Regions from separate parts of the Homo sapiens genome. Here all the other regions are linked to region 2. Evidence: fine-mapped expression QTL. A gene starts in region 2. Each other region holds a variant in brackets. All regions are shown on one strand. Distances are from middle to middle.

Region 1 (5,782 bases), 29 kb after region 2:
GGACTCTGGCCTGAGCAAGGCTTGACCACAAAGGCTGTGGCCACCTGACGCGCCTGCCTTCGCCTTCCCATTGGTAAACATGGAGGGGTGGGGCCACGTTGCCGTTTCTAAATTTGTGTAATTTTTATCTTCCATTGTGACCTTCATATATTGAAAGAGTTTACTAGATGGGCTGCTTTTACTAAGCGTTGTTGTCTTGGTTTCCCTGACAGTTACCTGCTGCTGACACATTAGACACAGAGGTTGGCTGGCATGCAGGGCACTGGGCATTCCCAGCAGCCGGGGTTGGCAGGGCAATTTTGTGCCTTGTGATTTCTGTACAGTTTTTGGAAATTTCTGAAACAATGGGGCCAAGTTTTTTTGTTTTTGTTTTTAAGGCATAACATTTCATCCCTAGCCTTGGGGCCAGTTGTTCAGAGCCCTGTGGCTACCCCTAGATGGGCTGCCTTTTTCCAGAAGCCCGAGGCCTCCCTCCCCACCCAGTCCCTGCTCCTGGTCCTGTTAAGCCTTGCTTTATTCTGGGTGTTTTTCTTGTTTTTCCCCTGTTTTCTTTCTTTCTTTCTTTTCTCTTTCTTTTTTCTTTCTTTTCTTTTCTTTTCTTTTTTTTTTTTTTTTTTTGCCTTTTCCTTTTTACCCATTTGATTGTCTTGATTTTTGATTTTCATTTCAGTTTTGTTTTGTTTTGTTTTTGCTGTTGACTTTTTGGTCCTTTTTCCTCCTTCCCTTTCCTGCCCTGTCTTCCAAATCCCTAAAAAGGTCTCTGGGGACGTAACAGAAAGTTGGGTGGGTCAAGTGACAGGAAGAGATGTCAGGGAGAGGCCAGAGCTGGCAGGGACACAGCTGGAAGGGCAGAGGAGCACCTGGGCAGAAAGGAGCTGGGACAGTGGAGCCCAGGGGAGAGGGTCGGGCAAGGGAGGGGTGGGAGAGGCTGCCCGCAGGAGCCATGGCTGCAGGAACTTAAAAGATTGATCAGCTCCCCTTACCTTGGCCCCAAATTTGGCCAAACGGGCTAGAGAGAGCCCTGCACAAAAGCACTGGATGGGAGTGTATTGGGGGGTTCCACCTCCCCTGCCCAATGTCCCTGTGGGTATTTTAACTCTTGGGCTCCCTGGAGGTGAATGAATGACCACAAAGTCCGTGGTGGTATATCTGTTCCCTCCAGAATCCATTCCTTCCCTTCTCTCCCTTTCTTCCTTGGCTCCCAGCATCCGGAGTAGGGAAGAGAAGGAAAGGAAAAGGAAGGGAAAGTGAGGATGAGGCTAGGATGGGGAGAAGGAGGATCTGCTCAATTCACTTAGTCCCCCTGGGTGACACACAGGACCGCTGTGGCGTCCAGGCGGCAGGATGCTGGGCACCTGCCCTGCCGCTCCTGACTTGCTGTGTGGCCTTGAGCAGATCCACTCCCTGCCCAGAGCTAAGTCTCCTCATTTGCAAATTAGGGCTAATAATGGGCACCTGGCAGGGCCTTTGTGCGCACTGGTAGGTATACAGGCAGACAAACAATGAAGACACACCCAGTTGCATTACAAAGGAGAGGTGTGTAAGGTCATAGTGGGAGGTTAGGGCAGGAAGGTTCAGACCAGGAAGAGGTCTATTCCAGCTTTGGAGCAGCCAGGAGGCCTTCCTAGAGGAGGGGGCACTTGGGCTGGGCTCTGGAGGGCCCTAGATTTTAGTCGGGAGGCCCCTGGGGCTTGGAGCAGGGCCACTGCATGGAGACTAGAAAATGAAGGGAGGCCAGAGGCCGGGCTGGGGCAGAGGAGGCTGCAGGTGGAGACTCTGGCTGGGGCTGTGCCACTCCCACTTTCCAGCATTTTGCCTCCTAACAGCTGCAGGAGGGTCAGGCCGAGGGGCTGAGGGTGGGGGCCATGCATTCCGGTGACTAACTCCACCCCCCTGTCCTGCTGCCCGCTGCCTCCCGCTGATACCCTGCCCCACCCCGCCCTTCCCCACCGGAGGCCTGGCCCTCTAATGTTGTCTGTCTTCTTCCCCCAGCAATTTCTGGCAACAAAGACGGGGGTGAGTATGGGGCCAATGTCAATGGGGCAGCCCTGGGGGTACCCCCTTCCTCTGCACAACAGAGGGGCCACGGGTGGCTCTGGCCTCCCGGTGGGTAGGCACCAGAACTGACAGACCCCCTCACCCCCACCGCCCCAGGGCACCCTTGAGGATCAAATCATCGAGGCCAACCCTGCCATGGAGGCCTTTGGCAACGCCAAGACCCTGAGGAATGATAACTCCTCCCGCTTTGTGAGTGGCTGAGGTGGGAGGGGTGGCGGGGATGCCGTAGGCCACCAGCGGCAGGTCGGGCACAGGTGGGGACAGTGCTGGCTGTGCCCCTTGGCTGAGGGCTGCCCCTCTGCCCACAGGGCAAGTTCATCCGCATTCACTTTGGTCCCTCTGGGAAGCTGGCATCCGCGGATATTGACAGCTGTGAGTCAACCCCCTGCGGGCGGTGCAGGGGAAGGAGGCCTGAGCC[C/T]GGTCACCCCAACTCGGCCTCTGTCATCACGACTTCTGGGCTCCTGCCTGCTCTGGGCACTTCTCTCTACCCCCTGGCTGCTGCCCAGCTCAGGCCACCTCACCTATCACCAGAACATCACCCCAGCCTCTGCCTGGTCTCCAGCTTCCTCTCCTCTACGCGGCCATAGTTTTGCTGGTCATATCCTGTTCCTGCTTGAAAGCTTTCTCTAGATCCTGTCACCTGAGGATGGAGACCCAAATCCTCATTTGGCCAGTCAGGCTCCTGTGACTGCACCCCTAGCGTGTCCCCAGTCTTCTCTCTGGCCACCAAGAGGGCAGGCCTGGCCCACGGCCCTCCTGCCCCAGCTGCACAGCTACACGTAGAGTGCCCCATCCTTCCAGGCACCCCGCTGGGAAGTGCCCCAGTACCACCAGCTGCATAGACCCCAGGCGCCTAGGCCACACTCAAGGGGGCCAGGGACACAGAGGGGCCCCCACGTTGGCCACTCCCCACATTGGGCTGCATGGCTAGGTCTTGACGGATGAGCGCAGGCAGGCAGTGACGGGGACAGGGATAGGCTGTAATTCACACCCTGACCCCTACACAGACACACACAGACACACACGGAGGCTCGGCCACACACGCACACACGCTGACACACCAACAGATAAAAACCTGCACACGCAGACACCACACTCACCCCACACACACGCAAGGACACACACTGACCCATCTGGCCAGAGACACAGACACACAGGTACAGACACACGGCTCGTGTGATGACGCAGGCACAGGGGAGATACCCTCCCCACACAAGCTGGCAGGTGCAGATGCAGCCCCCCTGCACACTCCCTGCCCACCTCTCTCCCTCCGCATCGCCCCCTTGGGATGTCCACTCTGGGGAGGTGTGGGAGATGGCAGGCCAGCGTCCCTTCTCCCCAGATCTCCTGGAGAAGTCGCGGGTGATCTTCCAGTTGCCTGGTGAGCGCAGCTACCATGTCTACTACCAGATCCTCTCAGGGAGGAAGCCAGAGCTGCAGGGTGAGGGGCAGTACGATGAAGGGGGTGGGAGTCAGAACCTGGAGGGGCTGCCTGGCGCTTCCTGGCCCCCATCAGGCCAGGCCCTGGTGGTCTTTCCCTCCCTGTCCTGGGGTCTGTGGCCTCTCTTCCTTCTTGGGACTTTTGGTTACTTTCCTGCTAGGGAACAGTCCTCTTAGCTCCAGCAACCTGCCAACGTGTTATCGCTGCCTCCAGGAGCCTAAGCCCTAAACCCCACTTGCTGTCCTGAGACTAGAGAGGTCCCACCCAGCACCAAGGCGGACTGATGACTGTCTAGGCCCAGCTCTCCTCTCTGGCAAGCCCGTTGAGGGCAGAGTCTGGTCTTCCCTGTGCGCCAGCATCTAGCATGGGATCTGGGCCAGAGGGGGCCATGAGCAACAGTCAAAAGATGAGTGAGACGTGAGGACTGTGGCTCATTCCTCAGAGAACCAGAAAAAGAAGCCAGGGTCAAAGTGAAGGCCAGGTCAGGGCCCTTCACTCTCAGTGCCCTCAGCCTTGGCAGGAGTGAGGATGAGAAACTTAGGCCCCAGACTGGGAGATGAGGTCCTCTGGGAGGGCCCTAGACTCCTGCTGGGCTTGCCCCCGCAGGACCCCCTATGCTGCAATTGTTGTGGGGAGAATAGCCGGTAAGCACTGCCTGACCCTCCCTTCTCTGCCCTGTGTCCCCAGACATGCTGCTTCTGTCTATGAACCCCTATGACTACCACTTCTGCAGCCAGGGCGTCATCACCGTGGACAACATGAATGATGGGGAGGAGCTCATCGCCACCGACGTATGAGCTCTGGTGGGAGGGGAGCTGTGTGGACGCCTGTGGTGGAATCGGGCAGCACTGCCGGTGCCCCCAGCTGCATGAATGGTCCCGGGGCAGTGCCTGGCTGGACCCTGGAGGAGCCCAGACCTCTCTGAACTCGCTTTCCCTGCTGCCCCCCAGCATGCCATGGACATCCTAGGCTTCAGCGTGGATGAGAAATGTGCCTGCTATAAGATCGTGGGCGCCCTCCTGCACTTTGGCAACATGAAGTTCAAGCAGAAGCAGCGGGAGGAGCAGGCGGAGGCCGATGGCACTGAGAGTGAGGGGCCCTAACCTGGCCTTCAACTTGACCCAGACCTCAGCATCCTGTCCATGATGGTTAACCCCAACTCTTGTCCACAACCTTTAACCTCAGTCTTACCTGGCCCTGCCTCCTCAGCTCCAAACCCTTACCCTCCTGAGGCTTTGTTTGCTAGCCCTGAACTTGACCCCTCTTAACTTCCCTCTCCTAGCCCCAGGCTGAGGCAGTAGAGCCCCTGAGTGCGCATGGTGGTGTCCTCCTCCCTTACCCCACTCGTGCCCTGCCAGGTGCTGACAAGGCTGCCTACCTGATGGGGGTCAGCAGTGGGGACCTCCTCAAAGGCCTTTTGCACCCCCGGGTGCGTGTAGGGAACGAGTACGTGACCAAGGGCCAGAGTGTGGAGCAGGTGAGCTGCCTGCAGGCCAAACCCATGGGGGACAGCCGGGCAGGGTCCCCTCCTTGCCAGGTCCCAGCCCAGCCTCCCTGCACCTCCAGGTGGTGTTTGCTGTGGGGGCTCTGGCCAAGGCCACCTATGACCGGCTGTTCAGGTGGCTGGTGTCTCGGATCAACCAGACCCTGGACACAAAGCTGCCCCGGCAGTTCTTCATCGGGGTTCTGGACATCGCTGGGTTTGAGATCTTTGAGGTGAGGACAGGCCCTCACCTTGGCCTCTGTTCTCTCCAAGGTAGAGGACATGGGCCTGTGGGGGGGCAGAAGCCCTGGCCTTCTGCCTGGAAGTTGGGGGTGAACTCATGCCCCTCCCCGGGCCTCCCTTTCCCCATCTGCGAGAGGTCTGCTGAGCCAGGCCCCTCCCTCTTGTAGTTCAACAGCTTCGAACAGCTGTGCATCAACTTCACCAATGAGAAATTGCAGCAGTTCTTCAACCAGCACATGTTTGTGCTGGAGCAGGAGGAGTACAAGCGGGAGGGCATCGACTGGGTCTTCATCGACTTCGGCCTTGACCTGCAGCCTTGCATCGACCTCATCGAGAAGGTGGGTGCCGCGGCAAGGTCACTTTGAGGAAGGGAGGGTGTGTGTGGTGAGCAAGCAGGGATGGATGACCATGGCTTGCATGGAAGCCTGCAAGTGTGCATGGAAGCGTGTGACTGTGCGTTGCAGTAAGCATGCATGTGAGTGTAGTTGTGACAGCGTTTATGTGCTTGTGTGTGAAAGGGCACGTGTGTGAGTGGGTGTGTTGGAGTTGACCATGAG
Region 2 (5,782 bases):
ACATGGTTGCCCAACTCAGTGGTCCCCAGGAAGGGAGTTAGAGAATAATAGGAAACCTCCATCACATTCAGCTCTGTCCCCCTGTCCCCATGACAGAGCCAGTGCCAGGCCAATTATGAAAGTCTGCCAGCCTCAGCACAATGCTTTGAAAGAATGCGCATGTGATCTCAAGAGGGTCCTGATAATATCCCTGTTGAGTGAGACATACATGAGGGCAATCATAGTAAAGAACAAGGTTCAAGTCAGACAGACAGACAGACCTGGGTTTGAGTCCATAATAATACGACTTCTCCCTTTCCCTTCTTTCCTTCCTTCCTTTTCCCTTTCCCTTTCCCTTCCCTCCTTCTTTCCTTCCTTCCTTCCTTCTTTTTCTTTCTTTCTCTCTCTCTCCCTCCCTCTTTCTTTCTTTTTTTTTTTTTTTGACGGAGTCTGGCTCTGTCGCCCAGGCTGGAGTGCAGCCGCACGATCTCGGCTCACTGCAAGCTCCGCCTCCTGGGTTCATGCCATTCTCCTGCCTCAGCCTCCCGAGTAGCTGGGACTACAGGCACCTGCCACCATGCCCGGCTAATTTTTTGTATTTTTAGTAGAGACGGGGTTTCACCGTGTTAGCCAGGATGGTCTCGATCTCGTGATCCCCCACTCTCGGCCTCCCAAAGTGCTGGGATTACAGGCGTGAGCCACCCCGCCCAGCCGACTTCCCTTTCAAGTAAGATTGCTGTGTGGATTAAAAGAGAAAAATCAGTGTGAAATTTATCAGCAGTGTTTGAAGCTCTATACATGAGACCATTTTTTGGCTGTACTCTCTTTATAGGTAGGAGGAGACTTGTCAGAGGTCACACAGAAGCCTAGTGGCAGAGCCAGGACAAGAACCCATTACCTTGACATTAGAGTAATGAAACCCTCCATGAGCCCCCATCGTTCCACAACTCTGAAATTCCAACATCTGTTTGCTGTTGGGCTTTTATTTAGTTGGCAAACACTGATTTGCATTTAATGCCACTCCCTTGACTAGGTACTGGGGATATGGAGGAGGATAAGACATAAAGATAATCACCATGGGCCAGGTGTGGTGGCTCACTCGTGTAATCCCAGCACTTTGTGAGGCCGAGGCAGGCGGATCACCCGAGGTCGGGAGTTCGAGACCAGCCTCACCAACATGGAGAAACCCCATCTCTACTAAAAATACAAAATTAGCCGGGCCTGGTGGCGCATGCCTGTAATCCGAGCTACTTGGGAGGCTGAGGCAGGAGAATAGCTTGAACCCAGGAGGTGGAGGTTGTAGTGAGCCGAGATCGTGCCATTGCACTCCAGCCTGGGCAACAAGAGCAAAGCTCTGTCAAAAAAAAAAAAAAAGAAAAAAAGAAAGAAAGAAAAGAAATCAGATGAAGGTGCTAAGTGGGCCCTTTGTTTTTCTCATTCTACAGCCTCAACCCTCCCTTGGCTTTATTTATGTTTTGCTGATGACATTCAAATCTACATCTTCACAGCAATACTTTCCTACCTTCAAACTAGAATATCCAATTTTTTCCTGCGAGTCTCCATACAACCAGAATAGAATTTGTTGTTGTCTCCCACAAATCTGCTTCTTCTCTGATGAACCCCACCCAGGTACCCAAGCCTTGAGTACTTGTTTCCTACATCTCACTCTCCCCAAATCCTATGGATTTTGCTGCCTAAGTATATAGTACTTTGAATTCCTTTATTTATCTCCATTTCCAGAGTTTGTAGCCTAGCCCCGGCCACTGTCATCTCTTCCCTGGGCGTGAAACAGATTCAGAGTCAGGTGTCTTCAGTGACCAGGATATGTTGGCCTCTGTCCCCCTTCCAGGACTTGGCACGTGCTGTCTTCTCTTTGGAACTCTCGCCACCACTCCTGATCTGGGCTCGCGATTTCGTTCCGGAAGCTGTCCCTGTTCTCCGCCCCGGGCTTCTACATTCTACAGCCCATCACTTTTCCCTGTACCGTAGGAACAGTGTTTGTCTTGATCACTTCTCTACCTAGTAATTAGCCGCGCTTAGTACTGTATTCATTCATCACATGAATGAATGAAGAATGAATGACAGACGGGTCAGATCACCGAAAGCCTCAAAACGCCCACAAGGAAATCGGTCGCACTTTATCGCCAGGACTTAGGCCAGTGCCTGGAAAGGCCCCGAGGCAACGACACGGTCGGCTGCCCAGGCTGGCCCCACTTCACGGGCCCGCTCGCTTCCACCCTGGACAAAGTTTGGCCCTAATCGCTCCCCGTTGTAGCTCTAACTGGCTCCAGTCTCACTGGCCTACATGCCCCGACACCGGCCCGATCTAAAGGCAGAAGATCCGGAAAGTCTGGGATCAGTGCGCGCCAGCCCAACCCCCTCACTAGACACTAGTTGCCCCGCTCCTACGAAGGGTTTCAGCCACAAGGTCTCCCGGCCTCCGGAATTCCAATCTCTTGCCAGACCCCTCCCTCACATCGTTCCTCCCGAGGAAACGTGACCCATGCCGGCCGCCGTGGCCGCCCCAACCTACTAGTTCGCCTTTCCTCCGCGAACGGTTCTCCCGGCCCTCGCGCCGCTACCCAGGCTCAGGGGGCGGGGCCTCGATGCGACCCAGTGCGCTTGCGCTGACCGCCCCGGCTAGGCTTAAAGAGCAGGCGGGGCAGAGACCCATACCTTTGGCGCTGAGTCGAGGCCAGGAAGGGGCGGTCGATGAGAGGGCGGCCTTAGCATTAGGAGTGCGTCGGCTGCACCCTGGCGGATGGACCTTGGGAAGGAGGGGAGGGGACCATCGGGGTCGGCGGGGAGCTACGGGTATGCATAGCTCATAGAGCGTCAGAGCTGACGACGACTAGTGGAAGATGGGGAAACTAATGCTCAGAGCGGGACAGTCACTACCTCAGGGGCACACAATTGATAAGGGTGGGGGTGGCCGTGGTAATGGAGGCCCCAAGGAGGGGCAGGGGCCCATAGTACGTCAGGGGCTGAGCCTGTATTAGAACCCAGGCTTGTTTCCCAGCCCAGCCAAGTCCCAGAAAAATCCCCCTGATTTTATCTATTTTTTTTTAACCTGGGATACCAGCAGGGAAAGCATTAGAGGCAAAAGGAAAGGATTTTCATTTTTCCAGGAATGCTGAAGTCAGGACTGTTTGAGGGGAGCCCTGTGTTTCTCAGACTCTCTTGTACCGTTTACATCAGGATCTGGGGCAGTTTTTAAAAATATGCGGATTCATGATTCCTACCCCCCACCTCATTGCTTGGCAGCCCCCAGGTGCCTTCCCTGTTTCTTCCTTCTGGGTTGTGATAGGCTTGTCTGCAGTCCGAAGCACCTGATACGAATTTTAGTTAAATGGAATGTATCAGTCCAGCTTCTAGGGAATTAACCATAAATAAGACACAGCCACTGCTTTCAGTCTGATAAGATAGGCAATAAACTGCCTTTCTGAAGGAATCAGGGATGGTTTTTGGGGTCTTGAAGGATGGATAGGAAGGTATAGGTAGTGAAGGAGGTAGGGGTAGAGGTGAGAGGCTGGGATGGGGACAGTGTTCCAAATTGCAGGAACAAAAGCAGCAAAGGCTGGCTGGGTGCAGTGGCTCAGACCTGTAATCCCAGCACTTTGAGAGGCCGAGGCAGGTGGATTACTTGAGCTCAGGAGTTGGAGACCAGGCTGGGCAACATGGCGAAACCCCGTCTCTACTAGAAATACAAGAATTAGCCGGGTGTGTTGGCCCGTGCCTGTAATCCCAGCTACTCGGGAGGCTGCGGCGTGAGAATTCTTGAGCCCCGGAGACGGAGGCTGCTGTGAGCTGAGATCACGCTGCAGCACTCCTGCCTGGGTGACAGCGTGAGACCCTGTCCTAAAAACAAAACAAACGAGCAGCGAAGGCATATAATTCTGAGGGTTGCTCGGCTTGTTTTACAGACACTGAGGAGTTTGGTGTGGATAATGAGGAAGGGCCTGAGGGTTGCAACAGGACTTAGGCGCTTAGGCTTGGAGAGGTAGCCTCAGACGCCAGTTCCACTGAGCAACAGGAGCTAAGGGCTTTAAGCAGGGGAAGGACATGGTTAGTTTTGTGTGTTAGGCACTGGTTACAGCGTGACAAATGGTTTGGAAGTGGGGAGATGGGCCAGAGAAAGCAGAGAGAGTTAAGATGTGAGATCATGAGGCTGTAGCCAGTGCAGCAGCTGTGGAGATGGAGCGAAGCGAACAGATCAAAGAAATTTAGGAGTGAGAACTCCTAGTGATCGTAAATCAGTGGCCCAACCCAGGGACCAAGATCCTTTTGACTCTTTTTTTTTTTTTTTTTTTTTGAGACGGAGTTTTCGTTGTTGTTGCCCAGGCTGGAGTGCAGTGGCACGATCTCAGCTCACTGCAACCTCCACTTCCCAGGTTCAAGCAATTCTCCTGCCTCAGCCTCCCAAGTAGCTGGGATTACAGGCGTCCACCACCACACCCGGCTAATTTTTGTATTTTTGGTAGAGACAGGGTTTCACCATGTTGGCCAGATTGGTCTGAAACTCTTGAGCTCAGGTGATCCACCCGCCCCAGCCTCCCAGAGTGCTAGGATTACAGGCGTTAGCCACTGCGCCCGGCCCCTTTTGACTCTTTAAATAAACCATGTACATTATCTGACTACAGGACAGGCTGAGTCCTCCAGTCTCCCGTGTGTGGTCACGGGATGGGGGGAGATGGTGGCAGATAGGTGTCTGGTTATTCCCAGAACAATGTTTCCTGATGTCCTTTCCTCGTTGGCTTTTGTACCTGAGGGGATAAGCAGCTGTTAACTAGAATAGGCCCCAGGTGGCAGGAAGAGGCTCCTGGGTCAACCAGGAACAAAAGAAGCTATTTCTAGTGCAGCATGAAATTAAAAATCAAAAGCATGACCCAGGGTTCTCTGTGCAGGTTCCCCTCTTCCAAGACGGGTGCCAAGTGATGAGTATCAGGTGTCTATGGTGAGATTTGGGGAGGATCCCAGACCTTAACAGCCCTTTGGTTGAAACCTCTCACAATGTGGCAGGTAAGATGTCTTTATTCCCATTTTGTAGATGTGGCAGCTGAGCCTCAGAAGTTACGTGACTTGTTCAAGGTGACCCAGTTTGTGGTAGGACTGGGAGTGAAGGACTCTTGACTAAGAATCTTTCCAGGGAGCGTTTGCCCTTTCTGCACTCTCTGCCTGGGTGCTTTCCTCCAAAATCCTGGCATGACTGGCTCCTTTGGTCATTCAGATGTTTCATCCCTGGAGGCTGCCCCACCCTATAAGTCTATCACGTTATCCTTTTCTTTTTTTTGAGATGGAGTCTCACTCTGTTGCCCAGGCTGGAGTGCAGTGGTGCGATCTTGGCTCACTGCAACCTCTGTCTCCTGGGTTCAAACAATTCTCCTGCCTCAGTCTCCTGAGTAGCTGGGATTACAGGCACGTGCCACCATGCCCGGCTAATTTTTGTATTTTTAGGAGAGACAGGGTTTCACCATGTTGATCAGGCTGGTCTCAAACTCCTGACCTTGTGATCCGTCCGCCTCTGCCTCTCAAAGTGCTGGGATTACAGGCGTGAGCCACCGTGCCCGGCCTTGTATTTTCTTCATAGCAGTTATTCATATCTGAAATTGTTGCTTTTATTTGTTTGCTGTTTCCCTCTGCTAGAATGTGAGCCCCATGAAAATGGGCCATGTCTGTCTTGTTCACCACTTTACCCCCAGGACCTGACTGGTGCCTGCCACGTGGCAGATGCTCAATAATATTTGCTAACTGATGGAAATAGTTTGGGGAGAGAGAAAGAGAAGGAAACCAACATTTAATGAAA
Region 3 (5,782 bases), 140 kb after region 2:
AGGGAGGCCTTCCGGCCAGCCAAAAGGGCTTTGGCCCGTCCAGCGGCGGCCTGGAAAGGCCTCTTCCCCGGCCCCCCGCCAGCTCCCGCCTGGTCCGCCCCGCCCCGCCCCTCCTGGTCCAGCCTCGTACCTGCACCGCCCGGACCAGGCCCCGGCCGGTCAGCTGGCCCTGCCGCAGCTGCAGCAGAATGTTACCAGGCCGCGGCCGGCCGCCCCATCCGCCCCAAGCCGCCACTGTGGCTGCCGACCGTCTCCCTCGGCCGGCTCCAGACCCAGCCGCTACCGGCGCCGCCGCCATGTCTCCTCGTCGGACAAACAGGAAGCAAGCGGCCTCGGGGCCGCGGAGATTTCTACGGGGCGGCGGAGGGGTCGCCGCAGCGCCCCCAGTGGGCCGTCGGCGGAGGCGCAAGCCGCGTGGCAGGGACCGTGTGCGGCGTGGAGGCTACTGGGAATTGTAGTCCTGCGCGGCAGCGGGGTAGGTGGGAAAAGAGATGTGGCCTTTCCTGCACTGCCGGTTTCTCTGGCCCCCGGGCCCAGCATTTCGGCGAAATCTCCCAAGGTCCACATTCTCCCATTTCTCTCGCCGATTTGGGCAGGATGCAGGCAGCTGGCCAAGAAATGATCCTGGGCTTCAGGTCAGGAGTCAGGCCCTCGAGTCCGCTTCCTGCCTGCTTCTCTCTACACGTGACTCACCGCGGACATCGACCAAGTCATCGCGCTCTGCCACTGCGCCTGTGTCCTCGTCAGGTCACTCCATCTATAGATTCTGGGAGCCTGATCAATCGTAGTTCCTGGGGCTTTCTCTGCGCCCGACACCAAACCATGTCTAGGGGAAAGGGAGGGTGTCTGGGATACAGTGGTGAGCAGAACGGCCTGGGATCCTTTATCACGAAATGCAGGTTACAGGGGAAGACAGCAGATCCATACACAAAGAAACGCAGTCTCAAACTGGATAAGTTGTGTAACTGGGTAGGTTGTTGTGAAATTAAATAATGGAAGGGAAAGGGATTAGTAAATTGTGACATCATATTCTCTGTCAGATGAAAACCCTGTCCTAATTTCTATCCACCAGATAGCATGTTGTCTCTAATACTCATTTTTTCAGCTAACTTCTGTGGCAGGATGGCACTGACTCCCCCCACCCAACACACACACACTTTTTCCCTTCCTAGCAGGGGGCCTGTAATAAAAATGAAAGAGGAGAGCTAAGTGTGATGTAACAGGGAATGGTGAAGATTGTGACTCATAACTAAGATGACTGTAACTTACTGCTCAAACCAGAACACTTTAAAGAATGAAAAGACACAATAAATAATTACACCGGGACGGTAGGCATAAAAGTGACTCTCCCAGGTGAACTGGCACTATGGTTACCATCCTCACACCCCATCTAAAAGGAGTAGACTCACCATCCATCTTCATAGAACTAGAAAAAAGAATCCTAAAAATCATATGGAACCAAAAAAGAGCCTGCATGTCCAAAGCAAGACTAAGCAAAAAGAATAAATCTGGAGGCATCACATTACCTGACTTCAATCTATACAATAAGGCCATAGTCACCCAAACAGCATGGTACTGGTATAAAAATAGGCACATAGACCAATGGAACAGAATAGAGAACACAGTATAAAACCAAATACTTATAGCCAACTGATCTTCGATAAAGCAAACAAAAACATAAAGTGGGGAAAGGACACCCTATTCAACAGCTGGTGATAACTGGCAAGCCACATGCAGAAGAATGAAACTGGATCCTCATCTCTCACATTATACAAAAATAAACTCAGCCGGGTGCAGTGGCTCACACCTGTAATCCCAGTGGCTCACACCTGTAATCCCAGCACTTTGGGAGGCCGAGGTAGTCAGATCATGAGGTCAGGAGTTCGAGACCAGCCTGGCCAACATGGTGAAACCCCATCTCTACTAAAAATGCAAAAATTAGCTGGGCGTGGTGGCATGCACCTGTAGTCCCAGCTACTTGGGAGGCTGAGGCAGGAGAATCACTTGAACCCTGGAGACAGAGGTCACAGTGAGCCGAGATCACGCCACTGCACTCCAGTTTGATGACAGGATGAGACTCCATCTCAGAAAAAAAAAAAAAAATAGCCAAAGAAGTTACAGTCAGGAGATATTTTGTTCCCTATAGAAACTGAATATAACATCTTAAAATTTGTCCCTGAGTGTTGTTTCTTAGAAACTCGAACCCCCACCAAATGGATCTGCTGATAGGCAAACTCAGATAAGGGAGAGCTGAGAACTAAACTTTGACTTCTATTTTTTGTTATAAATTTCTTCCTAGGGGGCCTGGAGGAGGACACGACCATAAGTCAGAGCTAACATTCTTTTCTGCAGATCCCAAATTTTTAGACAAAGCTTTACCTCCTTAACCAATTACAAGTCAGAAAATCTTTGAATCCACTTGTGGGCCCCTGGTTGGAGATGTCCTGTCTTTTTAGGTGGAACCAATATACAGCCCCTATGTATTGATTTATGACTTCGCCTGTGGCCTCTGCCCTCCTGCCATTAAAAACCTGTAAGCCGGCTGGGCGCGGTGGCTCACACCTATAATCCCAGCACTTTGGGTGGCCGAGGCAGGTGGATCACCTGAGGTCAGGAGTT[C/T]GAGACCAGCCTGACCAAAACGGCAAAACCCCGTCTCTACTAAAGATACAAAAATTAGCCAGGCATGGTGGCACGTGCCTGTAATCCCAGCTACTCGGGAAGCTGAGGCAGGAGAATCGCTTGAACCCAGGAGGCAGAGGTTGCAGTGAGCTGAGATTGCACCACTGCACTCCAGCCTGGGCGACAGAGCAAGACTCTGTCTCAAAAAAATAAAATAAAACCCCTGTAAGCCATAAGGGAGTTCAGGTCTTAAGCATAAGCTGTTTGATTCTCCTCGCTTGGCACCCTGCAGCAAGTGCAATAATAAATGCCTCACTTTCTCTTGCTGTAATCCCAATGTCAGTGGCTTTGCTGCACCAGGTAAGCAGCCCTCACTTTGGTTCAATAACAATACTTTTCATAACTTTTTGCACCAGCTATGTATCATTTCTAGATTCAAGAAAAAAAAGTCTTCTAATATGTGAAATTAACTTTAAAAAGACATAAAAAGAAAAGGCATTTCCAGGGATACAAACAGGGCATTGGTGAGCTGTCCGGGCAGCAGCCAGCCTTACCAGGGAATCCACAGCCCAGGGATTCCACCCAGAGCTCTTCCTGAGGCATATGGTGATGGATATTCTCACCCTTGTCGCGGTGAGGAGACAGGATCCTGACTAATTTCACAGTTCACATGGCCCTCCAGGTTTCCCTTGGCACTCATCATGCTAGGGACAAATCTTCCCACCTCAGCTTTGACCCAACTGCAAATGTCACTTTCCATTCCTCAGTTCCTATCTTTGTCAGTCTAGCCTGGCCCAGGCATTCACCAAAGCTGGGTATTCACTGGGTCAAAAATGACAACCTCAAATTCAGTCCTTACAGATACCATGTGACCATGAAGTAAGGGGACATGTTTCCAGAAACCTCTGTGGAAAGACACTCTTTTCCACTTCACCTCTGCTCTGCCAGCCTTTTCCGTAGAAACTAGCTGAGGCTAGGCGCGGTGGCTCAGGCCTGTAATCCCAGCACTTTTGGAGGCCGAGGCGGGCAGATCACGAGGTCAGGAGTTCGAGACCAGCCTGGTCAATATGGTGAAACCCCGTCTCTACCAAAAACACAAAAATTAGCTGGGCGGGGTGAAGCGCGCCTGTAGTCCCAGCTGCCCTGGAGGCTGAGGCAGGAGAATTGCTTGAACCCGGGAGGCGGAGTTTGCAGTGAGCCGAGATCGCGCCACTGCACTCCAGCCTGGGCCACAGAGCAAGACTCTGTCTCAAAAAAAAAAAAAAAAAGCTGAGTGTCTCTCACCACCAGAGGGCGAAGTACCTCTCCCACCAGAGGTCTGTTGATGTCAATTTTAATCAGCACTAGAAAAAAAATGAAGCTCCCAAACTGGCTAATTTTTTTTCCACCGTAATCCCAAATGGCTTAACCAAACATGATGATGCTATTCAGAGAACATTAACTCTTGTAAATAAATCGCCAAACTCATCTCAATTGGGCAGACAGATTTTCTGGGACTTTTTTTTTTTTTTTTTTTTTTGAAGTCTTGCTCTGTGGCCCAGCCTGGAGTACAGTGGTGTGATTATAGCTCACTGCAGCCGCCAAGCTCCTGGGCTCAAGCAATCCTCCCGCTTCAGCCTCCCAAAGTGCTGGGATTACAGGCATGAGTCATGGCACCCTGCCAAGAAGTCACTTTAATCAAAGCAACTGGCACTGTTATATCAGGCCATGGTAACAGCTGTCCCATGCAACTATGCATTGTCCTGTGGTGTCATTTTTTACAGTGATTTTTTTTTACATTACATTTCTAATGTACAACCTCTCCATGATTTGTCTTTTAAATGTTTGTTAAGTACTATCTTATGTGCCAGGCACTGTTATAGGTGCTGTGGATATTGTGCTAAATAAAATAAACAAAATTTCCTGCCCTCATGGGGCTTATACTTCTGGGTAAGATCTACCCTTTATTGAGCACTTACCATTGGCCAAGCACTTTCTTTGCACTATCTTATTATTCTCGCAGCATTTTTGGGGAAGTTTTTCAAATCTACAGAAAGTTAAAAGATACACCATTAACACTCATATACCCTTTGCTTAGACTTGTCAGCTACTAAAACTATATTTTATCTTTCTCTCTGTGTATATATACACATATATGTACATATATGTGTATATATACATATACATATATACACATATGTACATATATGTGTATATATACATATACATATATACACACGTGTATATATACATATACATATATACACACGTGTGTATATACATATACATATATACACACGTGTGTATATACATATACATATGTACACACGTGTGTATATATACATATGTACACACGTGTGTATATATACATATGTACACACGTGTGTATATATACATATGTACACACGTGTGTATATATACATATGTACACACGTGTGTATATATACATATGTACACACGTGTGTATATATACATATGTACACACGTGTGTATATATACATATACACACGTGTGTATATATACATATACACACGTGTGTATATATACATATACACACGTGTGTATATATACATATACACACGTGTGTATATATACATATATACACGTGTGCCTATATACATATATACATGTGTGCCTATATACATATATACATATATGTGTATATATACATATATACATATGTGTATATATACATACACATATATACATATACGTACATATGTGTATATATACATATACATACATATATATGTGTATATATACATATATACACATACATATATGTATATATACATATATGTATATATACAGCTCTTTCCATATATGTATCTCTCTCTATACTTCATTTATACGTAGAGAGGGTTTGTGTTAGTTTTGCTAAACATTTTTTTTTTTTTAGACAGGGTCTCGCTCTGTTGCCCAGGCTGGAGTGCAGTGGCACGATCATAGCTCACTGTAGCCTTGGGCTCCTGGGCTCAAGGGATCCTCCCATCTCAGCCTCTCAAAGTGTTGGGATTACAGATGTGAGCCACTGCACCCATCCTGCTAAGCCATTTTTTGCTAAACCATTTGAAAGTAAATTGTAGATATTATGACACTTCACCTGCATATTTTAGAATGTATCTCCTAAGATCAAGGACATGCTCCTAAAAACTATGATACCATCACACCCAAGAAATTTAAT
Region 4 (5,782 bases), 960 kb before region 2:
ATCTCAGTGGTGTCACTCATGGATGCAATGAGGGGCGGAGAAAGGTCACTGGGAAGTGGGGAGAGGTGTCCCCTCTTGTTTGAAGGCTTGAAGTCACTGGTGAGGGAGGTATTGGGAGGGAAGGTGTGGAATGATTTGCTCCCTACTTAATAAAGACCATACTTTAAAGATGTCAGCCTGTCTTTTGTTTGATAAAACACTAATGTGAAGACCTAGTTGCAAGGCAGAAAGCAGGGACAAGGGCTCTGAGGGCTAAGCCAGTGAGGAACGGGAGACACACAAACTTGCATTGACTTATGAGAGCTTCCTCCATAACCTTGAGCTCCCTAGCCGTCAGTCACAGTGGGTGGGAACTGTATGCTCCAAATCTGCTATCCAGTATCCTGGGGATTCCCAGGGATGGCTCAAAGCTGGTGGTCTGACACCAACACTTCTGTGTGTGGCCTGATCTCAGCATGGAAATGGGATGGACCAGAGTTTGGGGTGGGTGTAGCAGAGCAAGCCTCAGGGAGAGGTAGACAGTCACAACCTGCCAACCCTTCCTTGCTCTTGTTTTCCATCCTTCCTTCCCTTCCTTCCTTCCTAACAAGGGAATTTGTTCCCTTTGTGCCCTTCCAGAGGGAATTTGTTCAGGAAAGAGAAAATATGGATTTATGTTCTCCAAGACACAATCCTCAGGGATGATTCTCTCTCCTTTGAGAAGTCAGAGCATTTGTTTTTTCATCATCTTTGCCATCAATAACAATCATTAGAAGAGCTTACTATTTCTTGAGCACCTTCTGTGTATCAGGGGACATTACATATATTATTTCTAGCCTTCACAGCAACCCTCAAGGTAAATGTAATTTATGCCCACTTTACAGAGGAGGAAATTGGGGCTTAGAGTGCTTGAGGAGCTTGTCCAGTAAGTGGATTGAACTGGGCCCGGTTCATTCGATTTCTGGCTCCAATGTCATCAATTACTTGCAATATATACTTGCAAGGGCCTGGCTCCTGGCTAAGACCTGCTAATGGATGCATCTGAAATAAGAAATGTCTTCTATTCAAGTTCCAGACGTCCACATCAACAAGCATCAAACACAGAGTTTAACCTGCATCGTACTGGCAGTCAAGATGCAAGGGCTGTAGTCCTGGTTCTGCAACTCTTTTGATGGGCAGCTTTCAGTGTATATGTGTGAACTCCCCTCTCCAGTAGAACTCCCCTCTCCAGTTGTCATTTCTCCATCTGTAAAATGGGCAAGTTTGACTAAATATCTCCAAGAGTCAGCTCAGTTCAATCCAATCTGACAGCACCCATGGGGCTTTCCTGTGTGACTGTGCCAGAAGGAAATAAAGATGGACAAGGCAGACCTCCATTCTCTAGGTGAGCTAAATGTGTGCTCTAATAGTTATACATAAAGAGCAACAAAGCTTGGAGAGCACGGCATCTCATTTAGACTTGGCCAGTGGCAATGTGTGTGGCACAGGAGATGAGGCAGGCTTCAGGGTGGAGGCGCCATTGGCAGTTGGGCTTGAAAAGGAAATAGAACATGTGGAGGTGGAGACAGGAGGAAGCTTTTCCCAGCCAACACCACATGGAGCAGAAGAACCACCTGGTCATTCTATAAAATTGTGAGAAGTAACAAATCATTGTTGTTTTAAGTCACTACATTTTCGGGATGATTTCTTACGTAGTAATAGATGACAGACCCCAAAGGTGGGTGTGTGATTATAGGCTTTATCCTATAAAGGTCAGAGATTGCTCATTTTTAGACCACAGCCTACAGTAATTGGCCTGCAGACATAATTCATTTGGCTTGCACAGGGTTTTTAAAAATAGTTGAGCCAACATTTAGAAATTGGGAGATTTTATATGAAAATCCAGATTTGGGGGCTCTCTTGAAGAATCCTACATCTCAGCACCTGCATTCTAGGAACAGTATGCAACACACATCCTCCAGTTCATGACAGTGCTCTCCACTCCCTATTGTCTCATGCCTAACCTTCTTTCTAGCCCCTGTAGACACCTGAGGGTTTGCTGTTGTTGTTATTTGTTTTGAGAAGGGTCTCACTCTGTTGCCTAGGCTGGATGCAGTGGTGTGAGCATGTCTCACTGTAGCCTTGGCCTCCTGGGCTCAAGTGATCCTCTGGCCTCAGCCTCCCAAGTAGCTGGAAGTACAGGCACATGCTACCATGCCAGCTAATTAAAATTTTTTTTTTTGTAGAGACAGGGTCTCACTATGTTGCCCAAGCTGGTCTCAAACTCCTGGGTTCAAGCAATCCTCCTGCCTCAGCCTCCCAGAATTCTGGGATTAAAGGAATGAGCCACTGTGCCCGGCATGACATTTGAGTTTTTGATCCATGCTGATGACATGGCAATGGGAGGCTATTGAAGGTTGTTTTTTGTTTTTCTGTTTTTGAGGCGGAGTCTCTCTCTGTGTCTCAGGCTGGAGTGCAGTGGCATGATCTCGGCTCACTGCAACCTCCACCTCCCAGGTTCAAGCGATTACCCCACCTCAGCCTCCTGAGTAGCTGGGATTACAGGTGCCTGCCACCACGCCCGGTTAATTTTTATATTTTTAGTAGAGATGGGGTTTCACCATGTTGCCCAGGCCGGTCTTGAACTCCTGACCTCAAGTAATCCCCCCCACCTCGGTCTCCCAAAGTACTGGGATTACAGGCGTGAGTTACCGCGCCCAGCCCATTGAAGGGTTTTGAGCAGAGAAGGAATGATGAGAGTTGGGCAGTAAGTAATGTATTGGTTGGGGGTAACTCTGGGGCAGGTGTAGTGAAAATCTATTATTCAATCTGCCCCAGAGCATGAACTCCATCTTTTGGGAAATGCATCTTTCTCTGACCATATGGTTCCGATGGGGCTGCCATCTCCCTGTACGTCCCACTTCCTTATTCACAGTATTGGTTAGAGAATGGCACCTGGCTTAAGTTGGGCCAGTCACAGCACCTGGTTTTCCACCCATAGATGATTGGTCTAGGGACGGGGACTTACCTATGTTGGACCAATCAAAGTTTTTCCCTAAAATTTTGTCCTTCAGACCAGAAGCAGAAATCCTCAGTCTCTCTCCGGTGGAACGGGTGAGAGTTGTGAGTGGTGAGCGCTGCTGCAGCCAGGTGCCTAGCCTTGAGGAGAAAAGCTCGCATACAGAGAGAAGAGATAAAGGACTGGGAGGAGAGTCCTGGCAACATTCAAGCCTCTGCGCTCACCACTTCAGTGCATTTTCTGAGCCTGGTTCTCCAGCCTTCCCATCAGTTCTGGGAGCTCCCCATTCCTTCCTGATAAATTCCTTTGCTGCATCTGTTAGTCTGAGTTTATTTATGTTTCGTAATTTGCAACCGAGAACACTGGTGA[T/C]AACCGGGGGCTTTGAGGCAATTCCAGGAGGGCTACTTCTCACCCCCGTCAGGGAGGAGCCAAGACAGGGTTTATCCTCAAATGCAGATCCCCTGAGGTCAGGAGTTAGAGCCCAGCTTGGCCAACATGATGAAACCCCGTATCCACTGAAAATACAAAAATTAGCCGGGCATGGTGGTACACGCCTGTAATCCCAGCTACTTGGGAGGCTGAGGTACAAGAATCGCTTTGAACCCAGGAGGCAGAGGTTGCAGAGAGCCGAGATCGTGCCACTGCACTCCAGCCTAGGCGACAGAGCTAGACTCCGCCTCAAAAAACACACAAACAATGAACAGACAAATAAATGACAGAACAAGAAGACAAACTAGAGAACATCTTGAGACAAGGTGTTCAGGGAAGAGTTCTTTTGAGAAGGTGATATTAAAGCGAGTTTGGGGAAGAACGTCCCAGGCCTTGCGCTCAGGGTCGTCAACTCTTTGATTTCTCTTCCTTTTGAAGCAGGGCAGGGAGGTCATCAAACAACAGAAGGACAATTATAACTGCTGGTATGGCAAAGCCAGGACTCTGAATTCAAACTCTGCTCCATTCTCAGGAATCCCGTCTGTTAAGCAGGTTCTGGGGAAGCGATGTGAGTCATGAAATCACAGGTCGGAGGAGGCATCGAGAATATGGTCAGTTCTCAACTTTCAGGGAAATCCATAGCTGAGGAATGAAGGACAACGGGCTTCTCGTGCTCTCACTAGGAAGACTGGTTCACCGGAGGCTGGAACACTGAAAGTGAGAAATCCCGACAGGAGAAATGTGTAGGAGAGAGGACTAGCACCTGGATCAAGTTATAAAACATCTCCTGCATCTTTTTCGGAGATCACCCTTAGCGCGGCCTCTCCGCCCAGTCCCAGATTAGGCAGCGAAGAGCGACCCTCACCTTGTCTAGGTGGCACGTTCCTTAAAAGCGAAAGGACCAGGAGTTTCTTCCTGCCTCGTCTCTTCCGGATCCCTCCTGCACCGCCCACAGCCTGCAGATTTGAGCGCCATCTCCAGGCCCCGCCCACCTCAAGCACCACCCCTCAGTCCTTCCTTGGGGCACGCCTCCTTCCGGCACCCGCCCAGAGTAGCCACCCCCGGGGCCCCTCCTCCCCTCCCTGCTTCCGGGCCCGCCTCCTTCAGGCCCGCTTCCATCTTCCTCCCACTCTAAGCTTCTCTTCAGCCCCGCCTCCCTCCACCCGTGGCTCCGCCCTCTGGGCGATTCTCCATTTAGCCCCGCCCACAGCATCTCCTTTCAAGCGCTGTCCTGGTTCCCGGCTCTCCATCTCCTGCACGGCCTTCCCCACTGGTCCGGCGACCCTCTTCCCAGGGCCTCATCACCATCTTAGCTCCGCCCCTACTTCGGCTCCAAACCTGTGCAAGCTGCCCTCTTCCCGCCCCAGCCCCGCCTCCCCAAGCCGCGTCTCAGTCCCTCCTCCCTTTCAGGCCCCACCCTGGCCCCGCCTTCCTCCCGTCCCCGCCGAAGCTCTGGACCTTTCCAAAGCCAGGCTGAGAGGGTGGGGAGAGCCCATGCGCCTGGGAAGCCGGGCTGTTTCTGGGCGGGGCTGCAGACTCCTCGTGCTCGTGTCACCGTGTCCTTCCCAGGAGACAGAGAAGGAGGAGAGCCCGGAACCAGGGCCGGAGCGGCGGGCGGAGCCGAGCTGCGGGGAGCCGCTCCGGGTGCCCCCACCCCCGCGCGCCTCAGTGGTGCCGGCCGAGGGCAGGGCTCGCGGTTGCGGGGCTCGCGCCGCTGTCAGTGCGGCGGGGCGCGCGAGCGGCGCCAGCTCGGGGCAGCGGAACCCAGAGAAGCTGAGGGGGCGGTAGCGGCGGCGACGGCGACGACGACGACTCCCGCGCGTGTGCCCAGCCTCTTCCCGCCGCAGCCGCCCTTTTCCTCCCTCCCTTACGTCCCCGAGTGCGGCAGTACCGCCTCCTTCCCAGCCGCGCGGCTTCCTCCAGACCTCTCGGCGCGGGTGAGTGGGGACTGCGGGCGTCTCCTTAGGGGTGCGGGGAGGGTGTGTGCTTTGTGCCTTTCCGTTCACTCACTTCTTCCGGCAGGCCGCTGCCTATTTTTAGAAACTTATTTCTGCCCTTCGGGGAGTCCCGGGAGCCCGAGTAACTCTAGGCCCCCTCCGCCGCTCCTTTCTCCCACTCGGACCCGCCGCCCCGGGTCCCCGGCCCCAGCCCTCCGCGCCCGGTCCTGCTCCCGGCGTTCCCTGTCTGCTCTCTCCGCGGGCCAAGTCTGGGCCAGTAGTTGGCTGGGTGGGCCCGCGCCCGCTCGGAAGTTGGAGTCTTTTGTGCTCGTGCCCCGCCCCGCCCGGCGAGGGGCGGAGGGAGGGGAACGGAGGCTGCTCCGGGGAGGCCGCAGGCGGGCCCGGCCGCGGCTGCTTCCGGCTCTCCTAACCCGGACTG
Region 5 (5,782 bases), 470 kb before region 2:
TACAGGCATTGGGTAAATACAGCCATTCAAGATGGGAGAAATTGGCCAAAACAAAGGAGCTACAGGCCCCATGCAAGTTTGAAATCCAGCAGGGCAGTCAAATCTTCAAGTTCCAAAATGATCTCTTTTGACTCCATGTCTCATATGCAAGTCACCCTGATGTAAGAGGTGGCCTCCCATGGCCTTGGGCAACACTGCCCTTGGGGCTTTGCAGGGTATAGCCCCCCACCGGCTGCTTTCATGGGCTGGCGTTGAGTGTCTATGGCTTTTCCAGTCTCATGCTGCAAGCTGTTGGTGGATCTACCATTCTGGGGTCTAGAGGACGGTTGCCCTCTTCTCACAGCTCCACTAGGCAGTGCCCCAGTAGGGACTCTGTATGGGCCTCCAACTTCACATTTCCCCTCCACACTGACCTAGCAGAGGTTCTCTGTGAGTGCCCTGCCCCTGCAAGCAGACTTTTGCCTGGGCATCTAGGCATTTCCATACGTCTTCTGAAATCTAGAGGGAGGTTCCCAAGCCTCAATTTTTGCCTTCTGTGCACCCTCAGGCTCAACAGCACGTGGAAGCTGCCAACTCCTGGGGCTTCCACCTTCTGAAGCAACAACCCGGGCTGTACCTTGGCCACTTTTAGTCATGCTGGAGCAGCTAGGAAACAGGGCACCAAGTCCCTAGAGTGCACACAGCGTGGGGACCCTGGGCCCGGCCCATGAAACCATTTTTAGCTCCTAGGCCTGCCTACAGGCTTGTGATAGGAGGGGCTTCCATGAAGACCTCTGACGTGCCCTGTAGACATTTTCCACATTGTCTTGGGGATTAACATTCGGGTCCTCATTACTTATGCAAATTTCTGTAGCCAGCTTGAATTTCTCCTCAGAAAATGAGATTTTCTTGTCTATTGCATTGTTGGGCTGCAAATTTTCCAAACTTTTATGCTCTGCTTCCCTTACAAAACTGAATGCCTTTAACAGCACGCAAGTCTCCTCTTGAATGCTTTGCTACGTAGAAATTTATTCCACCAGATACCCTAAATCATCTCTCTCAAGTACAATCGTCTCTCTCAAGTACAAATCCACCAGTCTCTAGCACAGGGGCAAAATGCTGCCAGTCTCTTTGCTAAAACATACAAAGAGTCACCTTTGCTGCATTTCCCAAAAAGTTTCTCATTTCCATCTGAGAACACCTCAGCCTGGACTTTATTGTCCATATTGCTGTCAGCATTTTGGTCAAAGCCATTCAACAAGTCTATAGGAAGTTCCAAACTTTCCCACATTTTCCTGTCTTCTTCTGAGCCCTCCAAACTGTTCCAACGTCTGCCTGTTACCCAGTTCTAAAGTTGCATCCACATTTTCAGTTATCTTCAGCAGCACCCCACTCCTGGTAACAATTTACTGTTTTCACACTGCTGCTAAGACATACTTGAGAGTGGACAATTTACAAAAGAAAGAGGTTTAATGGACTTACAGTTCCACATGGCTGGGGAGGCCTCACAATCATGGTGGAAGGCAAGGAGGAGCAAGGCATGTCTTACATGAATGGCAGCCGGCAAAGAGAGAGCTTGTGCTGGGAAACTCCCATTTTAAAACCATCAGATCTTGTGAGACTTATTCACTATAATGAGAACAACATGAGAAAGGCCCGCCCCCATGATTCAGTTATCTCCCACTGGTTCTCTCCCATAACACATAGGAATTATGGGAGCTACAAGATGTGATTTGGGTGGGGACACAGAGCCAAACTATATCATAAGGTTGGGTAAAATTTATAACTAAAATGATGTTTTATAGTATATCCTTTCTGATTATTTCCATTGGTTCATGCTACTAGTCTCAAGAGCTAATAGTTCATTCATACCTTCTCAATAGCAATTCTTTCCAGCCAGGGTTAAATTTTGCATATTTACTTCTTAAGTTCCAGGTTCTGCATTTCTTGCCTGGTTTTTCCCTCCATAATTGAAAGTATACTATTTAACACAGTGAGCTGTCATTATTTCTTGGACAACAATCTATCCTTTTAAAAGTTTATTTTGAAATCTGCTTTTAAAATGTAGTCAATTCGTTTTTGTCAATTCTCCAGTTTTTTTGTTATGATATGTCTAGATTTTCTTATGACATATATAGCATTCCAGAGAGGTAATGTTTCGAGATTCCAAGAGATGTACTACGTTTCTCAATAGTTTTGTTGCTGGTAAGATAACATTTTAAGATAATGGGCAGCTAAAAAGGTTTTTAGTATCTACTTCAATAATGGCTTGCTTAAAATTTCAGAGTTTGGGGGGTTTTTAGTATTATTTTAAGAAGTATAATTTCCTTAGAATAAAATGCACTGATCTTAAGTGTAGAAGTTGAAATTTGACAAATATATATATCAGCCCAAATGTGAGCATTTTATGGAGAGAAGTTGTGCTAGATCACTCATTTAATTACCAATTCTGTAAACACTGTTCCATATAGCATCATGTCCATGTAAATATGACCCAAATTGTGGAACTTTTTTTTCTATTCTGGACCCCATAAGGGGCCAATGCACACCTCCCTTCTCCCAGCCCCAGAGGTAGGTAACCATTTCTGTTTAGTTCTATTTCTATAACTGTTTCTGATCTTAAACTTCCTAAAATGAAATCATAGAGTATGTACTCTTATATCTAGCTTTTAGTGTCTGATTTTTTCTTTTATTTGGTGTTTGTGAGATTCAGCCATATTGTTTATATCAGTATTTTATTCCTTTTTATTGCTGAGAAATATTCCATGCTGTGTATATCTCAAAATTTGTTTATCCATTCTCTTGGTGATAAATGTTTTGGTTGTTTCTCAGTCTGGGGCTTTTATGAGTAAAGCTGCTATAAACATTCTTGTGATATCTTTTTGTGGACATATTTTTCTTGAGTAAATACCTAGGAGTGAAATCGCTGGGAAGGTGTTTGACTTTATTAGAAACTGCCAGTTTCCCAAAGTGTTTTTGCCATTTTGCAGTCCTACTAGTAGTATTTGAGAGTTGCTTCACGTTCTTGCCAATTCAGCATTGTCAGTAATATCTCGTGGTTTTAATTTCCATTTCTTCCTTGACTAATGGTGTCAAGTACGTTTTTCTATGCATATTGATCATTTGTAGCTCTTCTTTTGTGATGTGTGTATCCAAATCTTTTATCCATTCTAAAATTGGGTTGTCTTTTTATTTGTGATTGTTGGAGTTCTTAAATATTTCAGATCATTGATTTTAGAAACTCTTCTCTTTCCCTTCTTCCCTCCCTCTTCTTACCTTTTCTTACGATACGTCTAGATTTC[GTTC/G]TTCTTTGACGGAGTCTTGCTCTGTTGCCGAGGCTGAAATACAGTGGCACGATCAGAGCTCACTGCAGTCTTAAACTCCTGGGATCAAAGGATCCCCCTGCCTCATCCTTCTGAGTAGCTGGGACTGTAGGCACAAGCCACTGTGCCCAGCAAATTTTTTGGTTGTTTTTATTTTTGTAGAGATGTGGTCTTGCTATTTTGCACAGGCTGGTCTCAGACTCCTTGCCTTAAGCTATCCTCCCACATTCTGTTTTCTAATATAAGGATTTAAAGCTGCATATTTCCAACTAAGTATTTCTTTAGCTATATCCCACAATTTTTTGTTGTTTTTTTTGAGATAGAGTCTCACTCTGAGGTTGCCCAGGTTGGAGCGTAGTGGTAGAGTCATGGTTCACTGTAGCCTCAACCTCCTGAGCTCCAGATAGCCTCCCACCTCAGCCTTCCAGGTAGCTGGAACCACAGGCATGTACTACCATGCCTGGCTTACTTATTTATTTATTTATTGTAGGAGATGGGTCTTACTATGTTACCCAGGCTGGTCTCCAAACTCCTGGATCCAAACGATACTCCCACTTTGGTCTCCCAAAGTGCTGGAATTATAGGCATGAGCCGCCGCATCCAGTCCACACCTTTTTTTTTTTTTCCCCCGAGACAGAGTCTTGCTCTGTCGCCCAGGCTGGAGTGCAGCGGTACAATCTTGGCTCACTGCAACTTCCATCTCCTGGGTTCAAGTGATTCTTCTGCCTCAGCCTCCCGAGCAGCTGGGATTATAGGCACCCGCCACCACGCCTGGCTAATTTTTGTATTTTTAGTAGAGACGGGGTTTTGCCATGTTGGCCGGGCTTGTCTTGAACTCTTGACCTCAGGTGATCCGCCTGCCTCAGCGTCCCAAAGTGCCTGGATTACAGGCATGAGCCACCACGCCCAGCCACAAATTTTGGAATGTTGTGTTTTTCACTATTTTATTTATTTTATTTATTTATTTATTTATTATGTTTTATTTTTATTATTAATATTTTTGAGACAGGGTCTCACTTTGTCACCCAGGCTGGAGTGCAGTGGTGAAATCTTGCCTCACGGCAGCGTCCAATTCCAGAAGTTCAAGCGATCCTCTAGCCTCAGCCACCAAGCAGCTGGGACTACAGGCATGTGCCACCACACCCACATGACGAGATGGGGTTTCACCGTGTTGCCCAGGCTGGTCTTGAACTCCTGTGCTCAAGGGATCCACCCACCTCAGCCTCCCAAAGTGCTGGGATTACAGATGTCAGCCACCACATCCAGCCACTCTCATTGTATTTAAAAGTATTTGTTAGGTTTTTTTTTTTTTTTTTTTGAGACGTAGTCTCTCTGTCACCCAGGCTGGAGTGCAGTGGTGCCATCTTGGCTCACTCTAAGCTCCGCTCCCTGGGTTCACGTCATTCTCCTGCCTCAGCCTCCGGAGTAGCTGGGACTACAGGCGCCTGCCACCACACCTGGCTAATTTTTTTGTATTTTTAGTAGAGACAGGGTTTCACCGTGTTAGCCAGGAAAGTCTCAATCTCCTGACCTCGTGATCCCCTCACCTCAGCCTCCCGAAGTGCTGGGATTACAGGCATGAGCCGCCGTGCCCAGCCAGGTCTTATTTTTATCCTGATAATCTCTACTTTATAATTGGAGTGTTCAGTACATTTATGTTTAATTTTATTACTGATTTGGTTGGACTTTTGTCTAACCATTGCTATTTGTTTTGCTATTTGTCTCGCCTTGCTATTTGTTTCTTATTTTTCCCAACTTTCTTTGTTCTTTCTTGCCTTCTTTGAATAAAGCAATTTTTACTTTCTTTTTTAGCTCTTCTGTTGGTTTTTTAGCTATACCTCTTTGTTTAACTTTAGTGGCAACTCTAATGATTATGATAATATGCATCTTTAACATCCCTGTTGACCCAAACACTACTTCTTGTACAATATAAGAAGCTCATAGGCCAGGTGCGGTGGCTCACACCTGTAATTCCAGCACTTTGGGAGGCTGAGGTGGGCAGATTGCCTGAGGTCAGGAGTTCGAGACCAGCCTGGCCAACATGATGAAACCCCGTCTCTACTAAAAATACAAAAATCAACTAGGCATGGTGGCAGGCACCTGTAATCCCAGCTACTTGGGAGGCTGAGGCATGAGAATCGCTTGAACCCAGGTGGCGGAGGTTGCAGTAAGTCGAGATCACGCCATTGCGCTTCAGCCTAGGGGACAAGAGCGAGACTTCGTCTCAAAAAAAAAGAAAAGAAGCTCATAATAATATAATTCCATTTACCTCACTCCAGCTCTTTGTGGTGTTGTTGTCATATATTATTTCTACGTGTCACAAATATAATACTTTGTTACTGTTATTCTTGCTTTAATTTTTAACTATTTTCAAAAATAATCTTATATTTACTCACATTACTATTTCTGGTTCTCCTTATTTCTTTCCTCAGATTCATTTTTTTTTTTAAATCTAAGATAATTTCCCTTTGGCTTTAAAA

Which allele goes with the higher level. Positions count from the first base shown, and alleles are read on the strand shown. Sizes are in standard deviations (SD) of each study's normalised expression. Not every link is listed here.
With allele T in place of C in region 1, the expression in esophagus mucosa of the gene that starts at base 2,654 in region 2 is higher (moderate effect, 0.42 SD a copy in GTEx).
For the expression in stomach of the gene that starts at base 2,654 in region 2, T is the low allele of the variant in region 4 and C is the other (moderate effect, 0.50 SD a copy in GTEx).

The links. PIP is the estimated chance that this variant, and not a neighbour inherited with it, causes the effect.
Region 1: its variant is fine-mapped to the expression of MYH7B in esophagus mucosa (GTEx, PIP 0.96).
Region 3: its variant is fine-mapped to the expression of MYH7B in tibial artery (GTEx, PIP 0.97).
Region 4: its variant is fine-mapped to the expression of MYH7B in stomach (GTEx, PIP 0.99).
Region 5: its variant is fine-mapped to the expression of MYH7B in thyroid (GTEx, PIP 0.98).

The regions. Positions count from the first base shown.
Region 1 is chr20:34,982,700-34,988,481 of GRCh38, forward strand. MYH7B (myosin heavy chain 7B) reads left to right here. Exons shown (of 45, transcript NM_020884.7): 11 at 1,993-2,016; 12 at 2,155-2,247; 13 at 2,367-2,430; 14 at 3,401-3,499; 15 at 4,187-4,290; 16 at 4,450-4,588; 17 at 4,858-4,976; 18 at 5,066-5,215; 19 at 5,393-5,563. Among named protein-coding and RNA genes, the nearest start is that of MIR499A, 4.8 kb to the right of the region's middle. RefSeq lists enhancers at 1,359-1,910, 3,013-3,564, 3,565-4,116. The variant C/T (reference allele first, on the strand shown) is at 2,477.
Region 2 is chr20:34,953,215-34,958,996 of GRCh38, forward strand. It overlaps MYH7B (myosin heavy chain 7B), which reads left to right and starts at 2,654. Exons shown (of 45, transcript NM_020884.7): 1 at 2,654-2,793; 2 at 4,884-4,998. GSS (glutathione synthetase) reads right to left here and starts at 2,592. Exons shown (of 13, transcript NM_000178.4): 1 at 2,513-2,592. RefSeq lists enhancers at 2,400-2,499, 2,740-2,919.
Region 3 is chr20:35,092,484-35,098,265 of GRCh38, forward strand. It overlaps TRPC4AP (transient receptor potential cation channel subfamily C member 4 associated protein), which reads right to left and starts at 324. Exons shown (of 19, transcript NM_015638.3): 1 at 131-324. The coding sequence starts at 298. RefSeq lists silencers at 96-225, 3,859-3,988. The variant C/T (reference allele first, on the strand shown) is at 2,620.
Region 4 is chr20:33,988,789-33,994,570 of GRCh38, forward strand. It overlaps RALY (RALY heterogeneous nuclear ribonucleoprotein), which reads left to right and starts at 5,123. Exons shown (of 10, transcript NM_016732.3): 1 at 5,123-5,343. RALY-AS1 (RALY antisense RNA 1) reads right to left here and starts at 5,579. Exons shown (of 2, transcript NR_109886.1): 1 at 5,417-5,579; 2 at 3,700-4,117. RefSeq lists enhancers at 4,024-4,103, 4,040-4,566 and silencers at 4,344-4,593, 4,764-4,873, 5,054-5,183, 5,244-5,293, 5,514-5,782. The variant T/C (reference allele first, on the strand shown) is at 3,347.
Region 5 is chr20:34,482,412-34,488,193 of GRCh38, forward strand. All of the region lies in intron 20 of ITCH (itchy E3 ubiquitin protein ligase), which reads left to right. Among named protein-coding and RNA genes, the nearest start is that of MIR644A, 19 kb to the left of the region's middle. The variant GTTC/G (reference allele first, on the strand shown) is at 3,282.